Linked DNA regions of Homo sapiens. The protein of the gene in region 1 purifies or fractionates together with the protein of each later gene. This does not show direct contact. Each region holds a gene or a part of one and is shown on either strand. Other genes may lie near its edges. The genes, in order: PPP4R3A and PPME1.

Region 1 (7,593 bases):
TTGCTCTTGTCTCCCAGGCTGGAGTGCAATGGCACCATCGTGGCTCACTGCAACCTCCATCTCCTGAGTTCAAGCAATTCTCCTACCTCAGCCTCCTTAGTAGCTGGGACTATGGGCATGTGCCACTATGCCTGGCTAATTTTTTTGTATTTTTAGTAGAGACGGGGTTTCAACATTTTGGCCAGTCTGGTCTCGAACTCTGTACCTCAGGTGATCCACCCGCCTCGGCCTCCCAAAGTGCTAGGATTACAGGCGTGAGCCACTGCGCCGAACCTCCATTTATATTTTTACCATTTTGGAAATAGCCACAAATCTCTCTTCCTCCATTTTGCAGGTTGGAGGTTAAATGACTAAAACAAAATGACTTTAATTTTTATCTAGCAGGGAGAGCTTAACTAAATTACTGATGTGCCCTTGTAAATTTAGGCTGTAAGGAAAACTGAATGCAAAGAATGGACTTAGGCTGGGTGCGGTGGCTCACGCCTATAATCCCAGCATTTTGGGATGCCCAGGCCGACGGATTGTGTGGGCTCGGGAGTTCAAGACCAGCCTGGGCAACATGGCGAAACCCCATCTCTACAAAACATACAAACATTAGCTGGTGCGGTGGCACGGGCCTGTAGTCCTATCTGCTCTGGAGGCTGAGGTGGGAGGGTCACTTGAGCCTAGGAGGTGGAGGCTGCAGTGAGCTGTGATCATGCCACTGCACTGGGTGACAGAGGGAGACCCTGTCACACACAAACACACATACACACACACCATGGACTTAGAAAAAATTCCAGGATACTTGTGAAATACTGTCAGTAATCTTTAGTCGATGATTAACATTTCTTGTCACATCTAAATAGGGATAATAAGTCAAAATTTACTGACTACCTACTATGTGCCAAACTCTTTTAGCAGTTTACTTATATTGACTTACGTAATTCTTACAACAGTGTCTGATTTAGTGCTATTAACCATATTAAACTCCCATGTTACTGTCTACTTGCATTTGCTGCTTTATTAGCCTGAAGGTTTATTTCAAAGAAAATGAAAATTACTTTTAGCCTAAAGATATTTTCGGCCGGGCACAATGGCTCATGCCTGTAATCCCATCACTTAGGGAGGCCAAGGCGGGCAGATCACAAGGTCAGGAGATCGAGACCATCCTGGCTAATATGGTGAAACCCTGTCTCTACTAAAAACATACAAAAATGTAGCCAGGTGTGGTGGCGGGCGCCTGTAGTCCCAGCTGCTCAGGAGGCTGAGGCAGGAGAATGGTGTGAACACAGGAGGCGGAGCTTGCAGTGAGCCAAGATCAGCACCACTGCACTCCAGTCTGGGTGACAAAGCGAGACTCCGTCTCAAAAAAAAAAAAAATTTCAATTATAGTTTATCTACAAGCTTTACATGGATGTTTTTGTGTTGACTGCCAGTTGGGGTCAGCCATTATTGTGTGCTTGCTCCATTCTCCATCATAGGATAATTGATATTTTCTTTTTGTTGTCATGAGCAAAATGGAAAGTATTTCTGATTTTCCATAAATTGAGTCATTTGTCCAATAGAAACTTAAAATTATTGCGCTTTTCCATACTTGGGCTAGACCTAGTCATTATTGTGTTGAAGTTTTTCTTTTCTAAATTACTTGTAGCTTTTCCCCAAAAAAACTTTTGATTTTCAGATTATTTCTTTAGAACAAAATAAATATTTGATTCTTAACACTTTTCAAGTATTTATTGTCTGTAAAATTAAGTTTTTGTGATGTGTTAATCATCCACCTTAGAAATAGGCTATCAGCTAATTTGGTGGTCAGTGCTAGAGATAGTGTGATAGGGGCTTTTGCATACCTGTGAAATAAATGGTGTGTGTTTTTTTTTTTTTTTTAGGCAGAATCTCTGTCATCCTGGCTGGAGTGCAGTAGCATCATCTTGGCTCACTGCAACCTCCACCTTCCAGGTTCAAGGGATTCTCATGCTTCAAGCCTCAAGCCTGGGATTACAGGCGTCTGCCATCATGCATGGCTAATTTTTGTGTTTTTAGTAGGGACACGGTTTCACCATGTTGGCCAGGCTGGTCTTGAACTGCTGACATCAGGTGATCCGCCCTCCTCAGCCTCCCAAAGTGCTGGGATTACAGGCGTGAGCCACCACACCCGGCCGCGTTTCTTTTTTTTAATAAGTTCTCTCAGAAAGGATGACAACATGTCCAAAGTCATTCATCTATTAAGATGGTATGAGTTGGGATTCAAATTCAGGCAATTCATTTTAAACTGTACACACTACTTAGTAATGACAAAGCGTTTGGGAATTTTATAATGTATATAGTGTTAGCATGGGTATAGAAAGGCTGGGTAGTTTTAAAATTCTCTCATTATTGGGTCTATATTTGTGGACGGGGAAGCTATAATAATGCTATCTCAACTGTAGGCTCAGTTCTTGTTAGGGGAGCTTATATGCTCGTCTAAAAATCACAGAAGAGAATTTCTAAATGGAAGTACTTGTGGCCTTCATGTTACAGAGCAGATCTGTCATGGTAAGTACTGTATGCCTTCCCTTCCAAAACCGAGTAACTTGGCACTCAACCTACCTTGCTTTAGAGGAAAAGGGATGTCCCACTAAGCTTCTGGGCCCATTTCTTGGATTGCATCTTTATCCAGTAGGTTTCTGCTGGCAAAATAGGTTGTAAGAACACGTCCCTTTTGTTTTTTGTTTTCTTTTTTTTTTTTTGAGTCAGTGTTTCGCTCTTGTCACTTAGGCCGGAGTGCAATGGCACAATCTCGGCTCACTGCAACCTCCGCTTCCCGGGTTCAAGCGATTCTCCCGCCTCAGCCTTACGAGTAGCTGACATTACAGGTGCCTGCCACCACGCCTGGTGAATTTCTGTGTTTTTAGTAGAGACGAGGTTTCACCATGTTGGCCAGGCCGATCTCGAACTCCTGACCTCAGGTGAGCCACCGCACCCTGCTCTTTTTCTTTTCTTTTCTTTTCTTTTTTTTTTTTTTTTAATTTTTAAGAGCTCTGTTGCCCATGCTGTAGTGCAGTGGCAGGATCATAGCTCACTGTAACCTCAAACTTCTGGGCTCAGTTGATCTTCCCACCTAGCTGGGATTACAGGTGCACACCACTGTGCCTGGGTAATTAAAAAAAAATTTTTTTTTTCTTTTTTTTAAGAGATGGAAGGGGGTGGGTCTTACTTTGTCGCCCAGGCTGGTCTCGAACTCCTGGGCTCAGGCATGAGCCACCATGCCTGGTCCAATTTTTGAATTTTTTCAAAGGTTCTCACTGTATTGCCCAGAATGGTCTCGATCTCCAGATGTGAAGTGATCTTTCCCACTTGGCCGCCTAAAGTGCTGGGATTACACCGCACCTGGCCCATGCTTTTCTTTAAGGAAGATAGATTACCTTATTTCTCTCAGTTTTTATGATAGCCGTATACCTGCAAAGTTCCATCTTCCATTTCAGATTATTTTGTTTTTATTTTTAATTCTTTCAGTGTATGCTGTGTCTGTTAACTTGAAGTAAGGATAATAATTTCATACCTTGCTTATGCTCTCCCTTTGTGGTGAAATCATTATACTACTTTTCTTTCTTTTGTTTTTTCTTCAACTTTTATTTTAAATTCCCGGGTACGTGTGCAGGTTTGTTACATAGGTAAATGTGTGCCATGGTGGTTTGCTGCACAGATCAACCCATCACCTAGGTATTAAGCCCAGCATCCATTAGCTATTCTTCCTGATACTCTCTCTCCCTCTGCCCCTTTGTACTACTTTTCACCATTATGATTTTTACCATATCCACCTGCCAGTTTTACAGTTGATAAATGCAAGGCTGGGGAACAAAGTGAGACCCCCCATCTCTACAAAATAAAAATTTCTAAATTAGCCATGTGTGGTGTTAAACACCTGTAGTCCCGGCTGCTTGGGGCTGAGGCAGGAGGATTGCTTGAGCCCAGAGGTCGAGGCTACAGTGAGCTGTGACTGAGCCACTACTCCAGCCTGGCTGATGAAGCAAGACCCTGTCTCAGAAAAAAAAAAAATGTAGCTCGGGCACAGTGGCCCACATCTGTAATCCTAGCACTTTGGGAAGCCAAGGTGGGGGAGGATTGCTCAAGGCCAGAAGTTCGATACCTGCCTGGGCAACATAGCAAGACCCTGTCTCCACAAAAAGTTTAGAAAATTAGCTGGGCATGTGGCACATACTTGTAGTCTTAGCTACTCAGGAGGCTGAAGCCAGAGAATTGCTTGAGCCCAGGAGTTTGAGGCTGCCATGAACTTTGGTCATGCTACTGCACTCCAGCCTGGGTGACAGAATGAGACCCTATTTCTAAAAACAAAAAATTTAAAAAAGAAAGAAATGTAAGGGAGTTGGAATTCCTCCACACACTGAAGAGTGTCTTTGGCCATAATCATATTTGTGCTCCTTATTACGAAGTACTTGCCAAGGCATCCAGAATAGTGTGCTTACATTGAGTTTTTACCTTGAATTTTATAAAGTATTCTTTACATTTCAAAATAGTTTTATCTGTTCTCTGACTCATATCTTAGAGTTAAACAGGTTAAATTCTCACTGTTACTTGAGGCATGAAGAAAATGAGACATGGAGAAATGTTTTTGTTCAAGGCAGCACTGCTAGCGAATGGTAAAACTGGGATTCTGTGCTGTTTCTGCCTCTTGATAGAACTCCATGTTCATTGTAGGTGGGTCTGCCTCTATCCCTACTGTGATTAGAAAAGGAGGTCAGAACACTTAGGGTGGAAAAGCTTTTGGGGGTAAGAGCTGTGAGAGAAATGAACAGATCAGTCAGTAGTATAGAATCTTGTATATGCCAAGCATTCTGTATATTTATCAAGAAGAGCTCAGTGTCGGTACAAGGGGAAGTATTTCACTTTGAAAAGTTTGTTTATTTAGAGACAAGGTCTTGCTGTCACCCAGGCTGGAGTGCAGTGCCACGATCATAGCTCACTGCAGCCTCAAACTCTTAGGCTCAAGTAATCCTCCTACCTTAGCCTCCCAAGTAGCTGGGACTGTAGACACATGCCACCAGGCCCAGCTGATTTATTTTTAAATTTTTTCAGGGGAGGTGGGATCTTACTGTGTTGCCCAGACTAGTCTTGAATTTCCTGCCTCAAGCAATGCTCCTACCTCACCCTCCTGAGTAGCCAGGATTATAGCTGTGAGCTACCACACCTGGCCCATTTTAGTTTTTAAATGCCACTATGTAATGAGGCATTTAAATTTTTTTCCGAAAAGTCAGGAAAGAAGGACTTGGAGCACATACCTGTTACGGGTTTAAAGCATACTTTAGTCTTGGCCGGGTGCGGTGGCTCACGCCTGTAGTCCCAGCACTTTGGGAGGCCGAGATGGGCAGATCACGAGGTCAAGAGATCGAGACCATCCTGGCTAACATGGTGAAACCCCATCTCTACTAAAAATACCAAAAAAAAAAAAAAAAAAAAAAATTAGCCGGGCTTGGTGGCGGGAGCATGTAGTCCTAGCTACTCAGGAGGCTGAGGCAGGAGAATGGCGTGAACCTGGGAGGCGGAGCTTGCAGTGAGCCAAGATCGCGCCACTGCACTTCAGCCTGGGTGACAGAGCGAGATTCCGTCTCAAAAAAAAAAAAAAGCACACTTTAGTCTCCCACCTACATGAGATTTTGGGCCCCATTGACTTTTCTTTTTTTGAGGCGGGATCTCACTCTTTTGTCCAGGCTGGAGTGCAGTGATCAGGGCTTACTGCAGCCTTGACCACCAGACTCAGGTAATCCTCTCACCTCAGTGTCCCAAGTAGCTGGGACCACAGGTGTACACCACCATACCTGGCTAGTTTTTTCTGTTATTTTTGTAGAGATGGGGTCACCTTATGTTGCCCAGGCTGGCATTAACTCATTTTTGATGGTGCATTCTCTCTACTAATGAAGCATAGTACATAAGTCCCTGCCTTAAGCCTTGAATATTGATAAGGACAATATACTCTAGAAGCTGATGGGTTGAGCTGCTTGCTTAGGAGTGACAAGGGTGTAGCTCTTCTTTCTGAAATCCTTCAGTATTTATCCAAATCAGGGCTGTGGTGAAGACCAAAGTTACTTAAACCCAAACCCAAACACTCCCATATTACTTCCCTGCTACCTGAGTCTAGTTGGTTGATAGTGAAGATAAAACCATAAAAATTACAGGAATTCTCTATACTATCTCGTTTCTTCAGTGAGAGGAAGTTAAATCTTCTAAACAAGTGAATTTTCCAGATGAATAAAAGCTGTGTACCAGAAGGTGTTTTTTGGGTTTTTTTGTTTTTAAATTTTAGAGACAGGGTCTTGGTCTTTCACCCAGGCTGGAGCGCAGTGGTGTGATCATAGCTCATTGCAGCATCAACATTCTGGGTTCAAGCAGTCGTCCTGCCTCAGCTTCCCAAGTAGCTGGTACTACAGGCACATACCACCATGTCCAGCTAATTTTTGCATTTTTTGTAGAGACAGGGTTTGCCATGTTGCCCGGGCTGGTCTTGAGCTGGTCTCCAATTCTTGGCCTCCAGTGATCCACCCACCTCAGCTTTCCAAAGTGCTGGGATTACAGTAATGAGCCACCATGCCTGGCCTACCATAAGTTTTAAAAGTCAGTAATTTTTTTATGGAATGTTGACTAAATGTGTACTGGAATGTTTTTCCTAAACAGTAAATGAATATATTGGTTAACCTCTTATTCGTAATGTGTTTATGGGTCATTATTAATGCTTGGTGTTTATGGGTCATTATTAATACTCGTTTTCCTGCTATACAACAGTACAGTGTTACCAGTGAAATGACTGTATGATGATGCCCTAAAAAAACAAGTATTGAGGCCAGGCGCGGTGGCTCAGCTTGTAATCCCAAGCACTTTGGGAAGCCAAGGCAGGCAGATCATGAGGTCAGGAGATCTAGAACATCTTGGCCAATATGGTGAAACCCCGTCTCTATTAAAAATACAAAAATTAGCTGGGCGTGGTGGTGTGCGCCTGTAGTCCCAGCCACTCTGGAGGCTGAGTCAGGAGAATCACTTGAACCCGGGAGGTGGAGGTTGCAGTGAGCCGAGATCGTGCCACCGCACTCCAGCCTGACAAGAGTGAAATCCGTCTCAAAAAAAAGTATTGAGTGCTGGTTATGTACTACATATTGGGACAGGCACTTGAATAAAAAATTTCAGTTAATGCTAATGGCAACCCTGTGAGGTAGGTATTATTTTTTTCTTAACTATAAATCTTGTTGTATTAACTTGCACCTGGCAAGAAATCTATAATTTTTATGCAAAACCTTTCCTTTTAAAAATATTTGCTGAGTTCTCTGTAATGTAGACTTTGTTAGAAGGATACCTCACTCTGTACTACCAGCCATCTTTATCTCCAATCCCCAGAGGTGTAGTGTTGTGTTGTGTTTTGGTGGGGGTTGGTAGCACCCTACAAGAAAGGGCCTCACATTTCATTTTATAGGAAGAACCAAGATATGAAGCAGGGAGGGAACTTTTTTTTTTTTTTTTTTTTTGAGGTGGAGTCTCGCTCTGTCACCCAGGTTGGAGTGCAGTGGTGCGATCTCGGCTCACTGCAACCTCTGCCTCCCGGGTTCAAGCGATTCTCCTGCCTCAGCT
Region 2 (13,340 bases), on another chromosome or scaffold:
TTCGTTATCAAAACCAATCCCATCATTGTTTGTTCTTCTCCTCTACAGTCATCCTACCGGTAACCTTCATCTCATTAATCGCCTGTCTGTGGCCCCTACCCCAGCCCCTAATTCCTTTCTATTCTCTGGAGGGCCAATTGCCCTTCCTTTTAACCTTCTGGTTCCCTGGCTACTTCCTTCTTACGTCCCTTTTCTTGTTTATCCAGCGGGGGTGCGGGTCTCCCTAAAATTCCTTACACCCTGCTCTCCTATTACGCTTTCCTCAATCTTTGATCGCTCAGGTTACCTCTTTTTTTGCGCCCACGGCTGCCCCCAGACCCTTGGCCTTTTCGTTGTTTCATGATGAGCCCGAGCTCTTCTTCACCAGCTCAACTCCGTCTCCAGCACCTAAGCAGTATCCTCCCGCCATCCCTCCCCACGGCGCCTGCGTTCCCCGGCAACCGGCGCCGCTGGGCAGCCTGGGAGGCAGGAAAAAGCGACTCTTCCTCTAACAGTCTCCGGAAAACGGTGCGAAGAGAAGGCGCCAAGACGCCTTCCCTCCAATACACTACAATACCCAGGACGCTTTGCTACAATACCTCTCCGGGGTTGGCTGGGGGGCGCCTCCAGCTGCGCAAGCGCATAGGGATGCGCCCTTTGTGGACTCCATTGCGCAGGGTGCATTGCCCTGAAGAGCGCTCCTCCTTCCGGTGAAAGTCGTCGGGTTCCCAGCCGGGAGTCTGCGGAGTTCTCATACTCTGTTACCCAGCTTCCTTTGTATGAGTGCTGTTGCGCACTTCCGGTGGAAGCGCTGAAGCGAGTGGGTGGAGTTTACGGAGCCGGTGGGCGGTAGGCGGTGCTACGGGTAGCTGGGTGCTGTCCAAAGGCGACAGGGCGTCGTTAGGGGAGCGAGTCGTGACCGGTTGGGCCACACTCAACGTGGGACGAAGCTTCGCCTACTGTTTGACTACGTGCGTGCAGCCTCCCCTCGATGTCGGCCCTCGAAAAGAGCATGCACCTCGGCCGCCTTCCCTCTCGCCCACCTCTACCCGGCAGCGGGGGCAGTCAGAGCGGAGCCAAGATGCGAATGGGGTACGTGACCCATACCCCTTCTCCCTATGGGCCAGGCCCCAGCCGTTGGAGAATGGTATCTCTGGGCGTTCATAGAGGCACGGGAAAGGAGTCTACTGATAGGAGAAAATGTTGGCGGCCTGGAGATATTTAGATGGAGTAGAAGGCAGATTGGGGTACTAGGGGAGGCGCCAAGTCAATAGAAATTGGAGGAAAAATAACGTTGTTGAAGGGAGAGGGGAATGAGGCAAAGGTTGGGGAAGCTGAGAGACTAACATAAGGGATCTGAGAATCACTTCCACAATAAAGGAGGCTTAGAAAAGGGAGTAGAACGGTGACAAAGGTGGAGGAGAATCGGCCAGGGAAGGTGGAGGGAAGTGGGGAATGACTGAGAGAAAAGTTGAGGGGAATTGGGCCAACAACTAAGGAAAGGTTTGGGAGGAGTAGATATTATCAGAGTTCTAATATCTGCACTGTGAGAACTAGATACTAGAAAAGCTGAGGGGGGTAGAAAACACTCGAGACAGGGCTGGAGAAGGAAAGAGGAGAACTAGGAAGCAGACGATTCTAGAGAATTCCCAGAGGTGTAAAGACAGATTCAGCGAATGAGAGGTGAGATTAGGTCTCTTAAGGGAGAATGAGAAAGTTTAGGGAGTAGGCCTAAGGTAAGGTGGAGAACATAGCCACGAAGATTGTTAAGGGTAGTAGGAATGTGCTGAGAAGCTGGACAGGATAAGGGAGAGAGAAGAAGGAGAGGACTGAAGAATTTACAGAGTGAGAAGCTGGACAGGATAAGGGAGAGAGAAGAAGGAGAGAACTGAAGAATTTACAGAGTGACCATAGGCTCTAAAGATTGAGAGATGACTATAAATACGGTTTGGTGAATGGAAGTGCTGCAGTTGTAAGGTCTGGGAAGCTTAGAGGAAGATTTGGGCAATCAGTTTTTGCTGGGCTAGTAGATCTGAGGGAAGCGACGTACTGGCCTAAGACTTTGAATTAGTGAAGCATTGGGAGTTCGAGAAATAGTTTGCTGGAAAGGAAGGAGAGCCATGTAGAAGAGATAGGTTTTGGAATTTTAGATCGTTAAATGGCTTGTGCCAGGTTAGGGGATACTTGGGCCGAGGAGAAAGAATGAGGTGAACATGGGAGAAGTAATTGCTGGAAAGTGGAGAGAATTGAATAGGCATTTGGTTTTGAGGGGATATTTGTAGTTTCAAACAGGATTCTGGGAATTAGTGACTGTAAAGAGAAAAGGAGTAGGAAAGATACTTAGGTATGAGGGCTCCAGAGTATATTTGGGATTCTAGAGATGAATTGGTAGATATTCTTTGAAAAAGGACTACAGAAGAGAAACCTTAGGTTCTGAAGAAGTAATATGTGTAAAAACTTATCAAAAAGGAGGCGAGAGTAGGAGATGCAGTACTGTGACAGTAAGTCCTAGGGATGAAAAGAAAGGAGAATCCTATAAAACAGTGGGGTAAAGGAATGGGAAAAATGGGTGGAAAAACCAGGGAAGGAAACTAAGAATTGAGTGGAGACCTGCTATGATACGCAGTAGAAAAATGAGAAAACTTTAGCAGGAGGAGATAGAGAGATAGACGCACAATAGAGGTAGAAGGCTACATAGAAGGTAAAGTGAAGATTGTTTTGGCTTTGGAAGACAGAAAAGTTGGACTATAACATGAATAAAGAGAATTTGGAAACTGACCCATAACATTATTTGGGAAAACTAACCTGGAGTTTAATATTAATGTAACATTAATTGTTGTTAAATATCTTAGTTGCTGCCTTTCTTAAAATAAATTTGATTTTTCAGTATACCAGCACCCTTCTATACAAATACATAAGAAAATCAGATTTTTAATAATTATACATTCCTTAGATAAGCTTAATTAGAGCTCAGCTTCTCATCTTGGAGAAACAAGTTCTCTGAAGATTGAAGAACTGAATGAAGATACTGAGAGAAAAAAAAAGGAAAATCTGCTGATTAGAAGATTGTATAATTGTTAGTAATTTATCGTTTTTATTTTTTATTACTTTTCATTTTATTTTTTTTTAGAGACAGAGTCTCACTCTGTTGCCCAGGCTAGAGTGCAGTGGCACAATCTCGGCTCACTGCAACTTCCACCTCCCGGGCTCAAGTGATTCTTGTGCCTCAGCCTCCCAAGTAGCTGGGATTACAGGCATGCACCACCACGCCCGGCTAATTTTTGTATTTTTAGTAGAGAGGGGATTTCGCCATGTTGGCCAGGCTGGTCTTAAACTCCTGGCCTTAAGTGATCTGCCCCACTTGGCTTCCCAAAGTACTGGGATTATAGGAGTGAGCTACTGTGCCTGGACAACTTACCTTTTTAAAAAGATGCTTTGGTCTTCTTGGTTTAGGTTAACTGCTTATCCTGGAAAAGAAAGTTCTTTAGAAAGGCCTTTCTTTATGATAGTATTGTGAAGAGAAGAGCATATATTGGCGAATATTTGTGTGGTCCTCAAATGGCTTATTTTCCCGTATCTTTCTTTTCTACTTTATTGGTATATAAGCAGGCTTCATCTAAGTCTCATGGTAGTAATAATATAGATTCTCTTTCTCCTTAGAATCATAAAGCTGAGAGAAAGCATAGACATGGTCTCATTTCACCACTTCATGTAGTTGAGGAACCCAATATTCAGAGAGTTCTGTATTCTATAAGGGAATGTATTAATAAATGAGGGAACTGAGACTCAGATATTCCTAAGGTACCCTAGAAGCTTAGCGGTAGGGCCGTTAAGGACTAGGACTTGGGTCTCTTGACTGTGAGACCCATTGTGTATTTTGGAGTCATAATTGTCATCTGGGGATACTTATTTTGAGTTGTGTATCTTACTCATTTGCATATAATCTAGGATTCAGTCTTTTTCTTCAGTCGTAATTTATGAAGTCTCACACCAATTTCAAAGCATTCTTTATGTCTCCTTATGCTTACTTGCTTTTTTCTTAACTTCCATTCTTCCACTCTATCTATGTTACTCACAAGTTAGTCCTGTTCTCTTGATAGTCTCTTGTGTGGCTTACTCTTAACTATTTTTCATGATCTCTTGCCTTCAATTTCACTAAACATTATTTAGGCATGTTTGCATATTCAGGGTGCATATTCTGAGTTGGTGATTTTTCATGAGTTTCCATAATTCAGTTTTTCAGATTAGATTTAGTAATTCCAAAGTATTGTTGGATAATTTAATAATAGCAATTTTTAAAGTAAGTACTGTGTGCCAGACATTGTAATGGTAACTTTATGTTATTTAATGTGTCCACAGACCTGCATGGTGAATATTTTCCTGCATTGTGGGTAAAGACATTCAGACCCAGAGATTAAAAGTAACCCAACTAGTAGGTAGCAGAGCTAGGATTCAATCTAAGTTTAGTCTCTAGAATCCATTCACTTTTCAGTACACTAATATTTTCTCTTGGGTAAGGCCTGAAATCCTGGTGTCACTCTTCCTTTTAATAGATGCCAATGGATGTTGCCAAAAACAGTGGTTTTGAACTTCTTTATTAAAGCTTTTAGAGCTACTCTGACTAAAGTAGATTTGAGATCCCTATTTGCTTTGCACCCCTGGTGTGCTTGAGAGAAGTATCTTTTGAAAGTCACTGCTTTCGTATATACTATTACTATTAGAGGAACTATAAAATATTAAAGCCATTCATTATTCAACGTGTTTTTGGTTTATCAGTAGTTGTACTTTTTGGCCAGGTGTGGTGGCTCATGCCTGTAATCTCAGCACTTTGGGAGGCCGAGGCGGGTGGATCACCTGAGGTCGGGAGTTCAAGACCAGCCTGACCAACATAGAAAAACACCGTCTCTCCTAAAAATACAAAATTAGCTGGCGTGGTGGCACATGCCTGTAATCCCAGCTACTCAGGAGGCTGAGGCAGGAGAATCACTTGAACCTGGGAGGCGGAGGTTGTGGTGAGCCGAGATCGCGCCATTGCACTCCAGCCAGGGCAACAAGAGCGAAACTCCATCTCAAAAAAAAAAAAGTTCTACTTTTCTATTATTATCTCTTAAATTCCTTTTTTTTTCTTTTGCAAGAGATAGAGTCTTGCTGTGTTGCCCAGGCTGAAGTACAGTGGCTTTTCACAGGCATAATCTTGGTGCATTACAACCTCAAACTCGTGGGCTCAAGCAGTCTTCCCACTTCATCCTCTTGAGTAGGTAGGACTGAGGATACATGCTAGCATGCCCAGCTCTGTAGTGATTTAACTGACATGTATATAGTAGTCCCTTTTTATATTCTATGAGGTAAACTAGGGCAGGAGTTAATATTTTCTTTTAATAAATGAGAAAACTGAAATGTTCATTGACTTGCCTAAGATCACAGAATCATTATGTGGCAGGAACAACATTCAAACCCAGGACTTCGTATTTTTAGTCCATTGTTCTTTCTATAGCTTGCATTGAAGGGTTTGATATTTGAAGTGACAAAGATCTAAGTTTGAAGCCCAACTTAGGTATTTACATTGGTCGAGTCATTTAACTTCTCATAGTCTATTTTCTTATCTCTAAAATGAGAATACTTCTGCTTACCTGAGAGTGCTGTGAGAATAAGATAATACATAAAAAGCACTTATAGTTCCTGACACTGACACATAAGCTCTTAAAGAATGATAGCTAGTAGATAATTATACATTGAGAACTGTGAAGAAGGTTCATAGTTTATGTGGAAGCTCTCCTTTCAGTTTCTTATGTTATCAGCTTTTTTGTCCCCACAAGCTGTATGTTTATTCATATCTGATTAGATAGTCTTTCATCCATCTTCTTAAATTTATTATGGATATCAGGCCTCTTAGGAAGGCTTTAATGAGCTATTCACACAGATGGGGAAATAAAGGGCAAAGTGAAGTGATTTGCTCAAGGTCACAAATTGAGTTACTAAAATAATCAAATCCCAGTATTTCTGTTTTTTTTTTTATTTTTTCATTAGATTTTTAAAAAGTTAAATTTATATGCCATAGAATTCACTCTTTTAAATGTACAATTCAGTGATTTTTGGTATATTCACTCAGTTGTACAATTACCACCACTAATTGCAGAACATTTTCATCCTCCCATAAACTCGTTACTCATTAGCATCTTCCCTTCCTCCCAGCATGTATTGCTTCTGGATCTTGAGTCACAGAAAGGCTTTTCCTTTTTTTGGGTTATAAAGGAATCATTTATATTTTTTCCTGGTACCTGTGTAGTGTCCTTTTTTTTTTTTTTTTTTTTTTTGAGACAGAGTCTTGCTCTGTCACCGAGGCCGGATGGAGTGCAGTGGTGTGATCTTGGCCCACTACAACCTCCACTTCCCGGGTTCAGGCGATTCTCCTGCTTCAGCCTCCCAAGTAGCTGGGATTACAGGCATGCACCACCACACCCAGCTAATTTTTGTATTTTTAGTAGAGACGGGGTTTCATTATGTTGGCCAGGCTGCTCTTGAACTCCTGGCCCCAGGTAATCCACCCACCTCAGCCTTCCAAAGTGCTGGGATTACAGGCATGAGCCAATTTTTTTTTAATCCATTTGAAGTTTATCTTGATATGCAAAGTGAGGAAAAGAAGACATTTTATTTTTATCCAAAGGCTATCTAGTTGTTTTCATCATTTATTAAATTTTTTAGTCCTTTACCCATTACGTAAATTTCACTACAATAAAGAAATAGTCCTGGCCAGGCTCAGTGGTCCATGCCTGTAATCCCAGCACTTTGGGAGGCCAAGGCATGTGGACCACTTGAGCTTGGGAGTTGGAGACCAGCCTGGACAACATGGTGAAACCTCTTCTCTACAAAAATCACAAAAATTTAGCTGGGTGTGGTGGTGTGTGCCTGTAGTCCCAGCTACTCTGGAGGATCATTTGAGTCCGGGAAGCAAAGGTTGCAGTGAGCCAAGATAATGCCCCTGCACTCTAGCCTGGGACACAGAGTGAGACTTTGTCTCAAAAAAAAAAAAAAAAGTCTTCTTTCTCACTGATTAAAATGACACCTTTGTCATATGCCAAATTTCTATATAAATCCGGGTCTGTGGAGTTTCTTTTACGTGCCACTACTGTACTTTTAATTAGAGGATTTATTAATATGTTTTGATGGGTGGTAGAGGTTGTTTACCCCTCATTCATTTTGAGGATTTTCGTGGTTCCTCTTGTTTTTTTCTCACAAATAAACTTTCTAATCCCATAGACTAGTGCCAGAAAAAAATCCTGATAGTATTTTTATTGGGATTACATTAAATACAAACATTAATTTAGAATAAACGTTTTTATGATGTTGAATGTTCCTTGAAGAAATATGGTATCTTTCAATTTGTATGAATCCCTTTTGAAGGAAATATATTTCAGATTCCAAGTATTGACCTAAGTTATATTCAATCTAATATTACTTAAATTCAATAGTACTCTTAAATAATTGTGAAACTCAGTAGATTTACTCTTTAAATACAATTAAGTCTACAAAAATCCCCAAACTCACATTAGCAACATTATATTGATGTGAAACAATCTAATTTGCTGTTATCAGTTTACTGTAGTTTAAACTACAAGGACATTTATTATTGATAGGATGTTCCAGGGTTCATTCAGTTGCTAAACAATTTCATTCAGGACCCAGGCTGTTTGCATCCTTTCTTTTGCCATCCTTAGAATGGTGGCTTTTCCTTCTCTTGCTTGTCACCTTATGGTTGCAGGATGGCTGCTGCCACTCTACTTCTATCTTATCTTTACAAATAAAAAGAAGCGGGGGCCAAAGTCCTTTCCTAGCTAAGCTTGTCTTTTAATTTTTTCCCAGAAATGCAAGCTCCCCAACAGATTTTTCCCTTAAGTCTTATTGTCCAGAACTGTTCACATACCCATCCTAAAACCAATCACTGGCAGTAGGGAATGGGATTAACTATGACTGGTTTAGACCAATTTTGATTCATTCCCTTGGACTGGAGGAGAGACAACAAGAGATCTCCACTAGCTGCTCAAACAAAAGTATTACAATTCTGTTAGGGAAGAGAGAGTGGGAAGTGGGCAGGTAATGTCTGGAATAGAGAATAAACAGCATCTGGCCCAAATCCTGAGGTTAACAAGTGGAGAAGCCTAATCTTCTGATTTCAACTTCCCTACTGTTTTCATTGCAGTGTAAGTATAGGAAGTAATAATCCCACCCCCAACTCCCCTGCCCCTTATTGCCAGATTTCAGCCCCTTGACATTCATTTCAGAACTTCTGAGTAAAAGTCCGTTTTTCCATTGTTGCTTATTGCCAGCAAATCTATTTCTTCTTAGTATCTCCAAAATTGGGTAATTTGCTCTTTTGTTTTATTTTAAACCTAATGAGCCTTCCATGTTATGCTACTTGATGTCAGATTTCAGAAAACATCTCTAGTTGTTTGGGAAAGACTGTTTCCTTCAAACTACAAAATAGTTTTTTTTTTTTTAAGAGAAGAAACTTTTAATTAATAGTTCTATTAAGAGGGTGGCCACACTTAGATATTCTTCAAATACAATATTGATTACAAGTTACAGGTATATTCTACCAATATATTTTGAAGATTGAATAAGAGATTATATTGAAAATTCCAATCATTTCAAACCACACCGGAAGACCGAAGTTGTTTACTTATCAGTCCTTTTCCTATATGCTTCTGTGTGTGTTTTTGGCCATAGACTTTTTCCAGGTTTAAGTAGACATCCTCTCTCTGCCACTAACAAGTTGTATGACTCTGGTCAGTTTCTCTTCCTGGGCCTCGTTATCATGGAAAGAAAGAACGCTTTGGCACCTGACGTACTTGTTTAAATCCAAGCTCCCCAGCCTGGGCAACATAGGAAAAACTTGTCTGTACTAAAACAAAACAAAACAACCAGGCATGGTGGTGCGCACCTGTTAGTCCCAGCTACTTGAGAGACTGAGATGGGAGAATCACTTGAGCCTGGGAGTTTGAGGTTGCAGTGTGCTGTGATCGTGCCACTGCACTCCAGCCTGGGAGACAGAATGAGACCCTATCTCTAAAAATAGTAATTATAAAATAAAAAGTCAAATCCAAGCTCCGGTGCTACCAAAAATGGCTCTGGGAAAGTTATTTAGTATTTCTGAGTCACCTTAAAATGAGAATACTTTAATGGTACTGTTCAAAACCATGCTTGGTACGTAATAAACACCTAGTTGTTTCCTTTCATAAAGTAAGATTTGAGTTAGATGATCTCTAACAGCATGATTCATGATGTAGTTTTTAGAATCCTGAAGTCTGCTGCTTAATGGCATGCCTTGGAGTAAGGAACACTTCAGACCTACCACAACCCTCAGCCAGCCATCTGGTTGCTTTCTTTTCATTCTCTTCAAAGTACTGCTAATAAGGACATTTTAAAAACAGTGGTGCCTTGATTTAAATAGCTGGCTGCAATTAAACTTCAGTATTTAGCCTCCACTACCAGACTCCTAGACTTTGACAGAATTTGTGACAACAAGTGATTAAGACTGCTACTGTGCCCATTCATGACTCATCAATAACTCTCTTAACAGACTTAAGCAGCCTAGATGTTGATGTGTTATTCCTATTTAGATTTGAGACATTCATGTAAAAACATACAACTTACATTTCTTGGTTATTGTTCTCTAGGCAAGGAAGGTTTTTCCTCCTTCCCTTTCTCCCCTTTCTCTCCTTCCTCCTGGCTTTCCTTAGGATTTGATCATATAATTTTGTTGGTTTTGGTCATTATCTCCTAGTAGGCATATCACATTGTAGACAAGCAGAACATTCTCTATTCTCCTTAGTCCTCTGAATTGTAATTATTGGTCAACTGTGTATTCCTCAAAACTGTTGAGGTTCATAAGGGTAGGAATTGTGTCTGAATTTTGCTGGTGCTTAGAATGCTGTCTCCTTTAGTGCTAACTGAACGAGAAACCCAAATCCTGGCCTATTTAACCCCGTTCTATAAGAACAACGTTATTTCCCCATCAGTTCCCTTAAGATGGTATAACTAGGGCTATACTGCCTTTCTCCTAAAAGCGGTTATACTTCATAGAATAATAGAATCTCTATTTCAATACCAGCTTTTAGGTAAAATGTATTGTGTTTACAATATGTTACTTTGAGATTTAAAATAATTATATGGTCGAAACTCTTGTAATAGGTCTTGTAATAGGCTTGTAATAGGTCTCATGATATGTACAGATTCAGGCTTGTTACTTTTATTTTATCAAAATTTGACAATTTATGTCTTCCTCTTTGATTCCCCAAACCTGAAAGCAAGTCCACTATTATAAGACAGCAAATGTCAATTAGCAATTATTTTCACACTAGCCTTATTTTATAGTATTCAATTTTTCTGCCCTTGCCCAATTTATCACTTATTCTCTAAGAGCGAAGACTATTTTCCAAGCACCTTCACCAAGTTTAGGGACCAGAGCAAGTGGTCCACCATTAAAGGCTAGTGTTAAAAGCGCTCCAAAGTCATGTCCTAAGCAGTGGTAATTTCCTAAGTGTTTCTTGCACTTAACAATTGCCAAGTTTATTTTGTTGGCAATGCCTTCCATTTTCTTCACTTTTTTTTTTTTTTTTTTTTTTTTTGAGACGGAGTCTCGCTTTGTCGCCCAGGTCGGACTGCGGACTGCAGTGGCGCAATCTCGGCTCACTGCAAGCTCCGCTTCCCGGGTTCACGCCATTCTCCTGCCTCAGCCTCCCGAGTAGCTGGGACTACAGGCGCCTGCCACCGCGCCCGGCTAATTTTTTTTTTGTATTTTTAGTAGAGACGGGGTTTCACCTTGTTAGCCAGGATGGTCTCGATCTCCTGACCTCATGATCCACCCGCCTCGGCCTCCCAAAGTGCTGGGATTACAGGCGTGAGCCACCGCGCCCGGCCCACTTTTTCAACTCCTATCCATCTTTAAAACTCATGAAGCACTTTCAGACTACTTTAGTTCATTCATTTGCTCTCTCTTCTCTGAGCACCTATAACAATTTTGGCATCTCCACTCATCAATTGTTTGCATTGGTATTGTACTTTTTCACTGTTACTGTGTCAGACTTATCGAAGATAATTTTATGCAGATTTTTGTGTGTTTCCTCAATAACATTTAGAACTCCTGTAGTGCAAGGACCTTTGTTTCTTTGTGCTTTCTACTGTAACACAGTTAAATGTTTTTGTAAAATTTAATTTAATGGACACATAGCACAAATTCATTTAAAATAAAGTTCTGAGGCTTTTTCTGATCAGTCCAGCTTGCACCGATTTTTCTATTTTCTGTCCTTTGGTGGCACCTGTCATTTTACCAGGAATCAGCAAACATTTTCTGTTAAAAGCCAGATAGTATTTTAGGCTTTGTGGGCCATGTTAGTCTCTGTTGCAGCTACTCAGCTCTGCTGTTTTAGAGTGAAAGTAGCCACAGACAATATGTAACTGAATGTGTCTGTGTTCTAACAACACTTTATGGACACTGAAATTTGAATTCCACATAATTTCCACATGTCATTAGTCTCTCTTCTCCCCCTGCCCTCCACCTTTTAAAAATGTAAAGATCATTCTCTGATCCTGGGCCATGCAAAAATAGGTGGTGGGCTGGATTTCCCGTAGGCTGTAGTTTGCCAACCCAGTTAGTTCTATACTTCTACTGTCTTGTAGTAGAAGGAAGGTAGGTTTTAAAATCAACAAACTAGGATTCTCTTCCTGGCTTTACTACTTACCGCTTAACTGGTGCAAACTTGACTTTATTTTTTTTTAAATGTAGATAATAATGCTAGCCTCATAGAATTTTTGAGGAGAAAATGAGATGATTTATGTGTAGAAATATTATTTAAATTGGAAAACTGTCTAATGGAAACTTACTGTATTTCCTCAATTCTAAGATACATTTCTTTTTTACATTTAAATTGATAATGTCTTTTTTTTTTTGAGACAGAGTTCTCACTCTGTCACCCAGGCTGGAGTGCAGTGGCATGATCTCGGTTCACTGCAACCTCTGCCTCACAGGTCCAAGCAACCCTTCTGCCTCAGCCACCCGAGTAGCTGGGTTTACAGGTGTGTGCCACCACGCCTGGCTAATTTTTGTATTTTTAGTAGAGACAGGGTTTCACCATGTTGGTCAGGCTGGTCTCAAACTCCTGACCTCAAGAGATCTGCCCACCTTGGCCTCCTAAAGCATTGGGAGATAGTGTCTTAACAATGCTGTTGGTCAGGTAACAATTCTAACATGGTTCTCATTGCCTGAACATAAGTGAACACCAAAACCAGAATCAAAATTTACAAAACGTATACATGTTGAGAACTTCTTAGAGGTAAAACTGGACTGCTCTTTTAACCACTAGGAACTGAATGCTTGTGAGGAGGCGTGGGTGTTCAATCGGGTGGGTTGAGCAACATTCCTAAAGTGAGAGTCAAAAGTAAGGCTGAGGCCAGGCACCATGGTTCATGCCTGTAATCCCAACACTTTGGGAGGCTGAGGTGGGAGGATTGCTTGAGCTCAGGAGTTCAAGACCAACCTGGGCAACATAGCTAGACCTTGTCTCTACCAAAAAAAAAAAAAAAAGTACGGGCTGGTGCAGTGGCTCACGCTTGTAATCCCAGCACTTTTGGAGTTCGAGGTGGGAGGATTGCTTGAGCCCAGGAATTTGAGACCAGCCTGGGCAACATAGTGAGACCACATCGCTACAAAAAGTTAAAAAATTAGCCAGGCATGGTAGCATGTCCCTATAGTCCCAGCCACTGGAGAGGCTGAGGTGGGAGGATGAATTGAGCCCAGGAGGTTGAGATTGCAGTGAGCCATGATCGTGACACTGTACTCCAGCCTGGATGACAGAGGGAGACCCTGTCTCAAAACAAAACAACAACAAAAAAAGTAAGATAGCTCTAAATAATTGTAAAGCTGGCATATGAACTGGTGTTTAGTTATATGAAACATTCCATCACCAATGTTCTTGTGAGGCACAGAAAACTATATTGGTCCAAGTGATTCAAAAGAGAGTGGGACTCCAACTATGAAGAAATGGTCAGGAATACCTTAAGTATTTTATTCTGCTTTCATTTATATATATTATATATATGTCTCCATAAGTAATATATAATGGATCTATATAAGTGTAAAAGAGCTATTTCTTCTATAGAAAAATAGAATGAATTCTTTTTTATATAAAAAATGTAAAATGAATTCTAAGTGATAAAGTATTGTGTCATACTTGATAGTTCTTTTTCTTAGTTTTTCATCTTACAAATTCTTTTTCTTAGCTTTTCATCTTACAAATTGATGGTGCCTTGTACATACTGTATTTCATCTATTCTAGCAACAAGATTGTGATCTGCTTGTTTAGTTT

The links.
Region 2: the proteins of PPP4R3A (region 1) and PPME1 purify together in Homo sapiens (affinity purification with mass spectrometry; 2 studies listed by BioGRID and IntAct, with this or other methods). This does not show direct contact.

Annotation. Positions count from the first base shown.
Region 1 is NC_000014.9:91,499,718-91,507,310, reverse strand, and holds part of PPP4R3A (serine/threonine-protein phosphatase 4 regulatory subunit 3A), read left to right. Parts: intron 1-7,593. UniProt on the Homo sapiens protein: Regulatory subunit of serine/threonine-protein phosphatase 4. May regulate the activity of PPP4C at centrosomal microtubule organizing centers.
Region 2 is NC_000011.10:74,170,452-74,183,791, forward strand, and holds the start of PPME1 (protein phosphatase methylesterase 1), read left to right. Parts: upstream 1-837; 5' UTR 838-970; coding exon 971-1,071; intron 1,072-13,340. Other genes in the region: C2CD3 (C2 domain-containing protein 3), read right to left, coding at 287-341. UniProt on the Homo sapiens protein: Demethylates proteins that have been reversibly carboxymethylated. Demethylates PPP2CB (in vitro) and PPP2CA. Binding to PPP2CA displaces the manganese ion and inactivates the enzyme.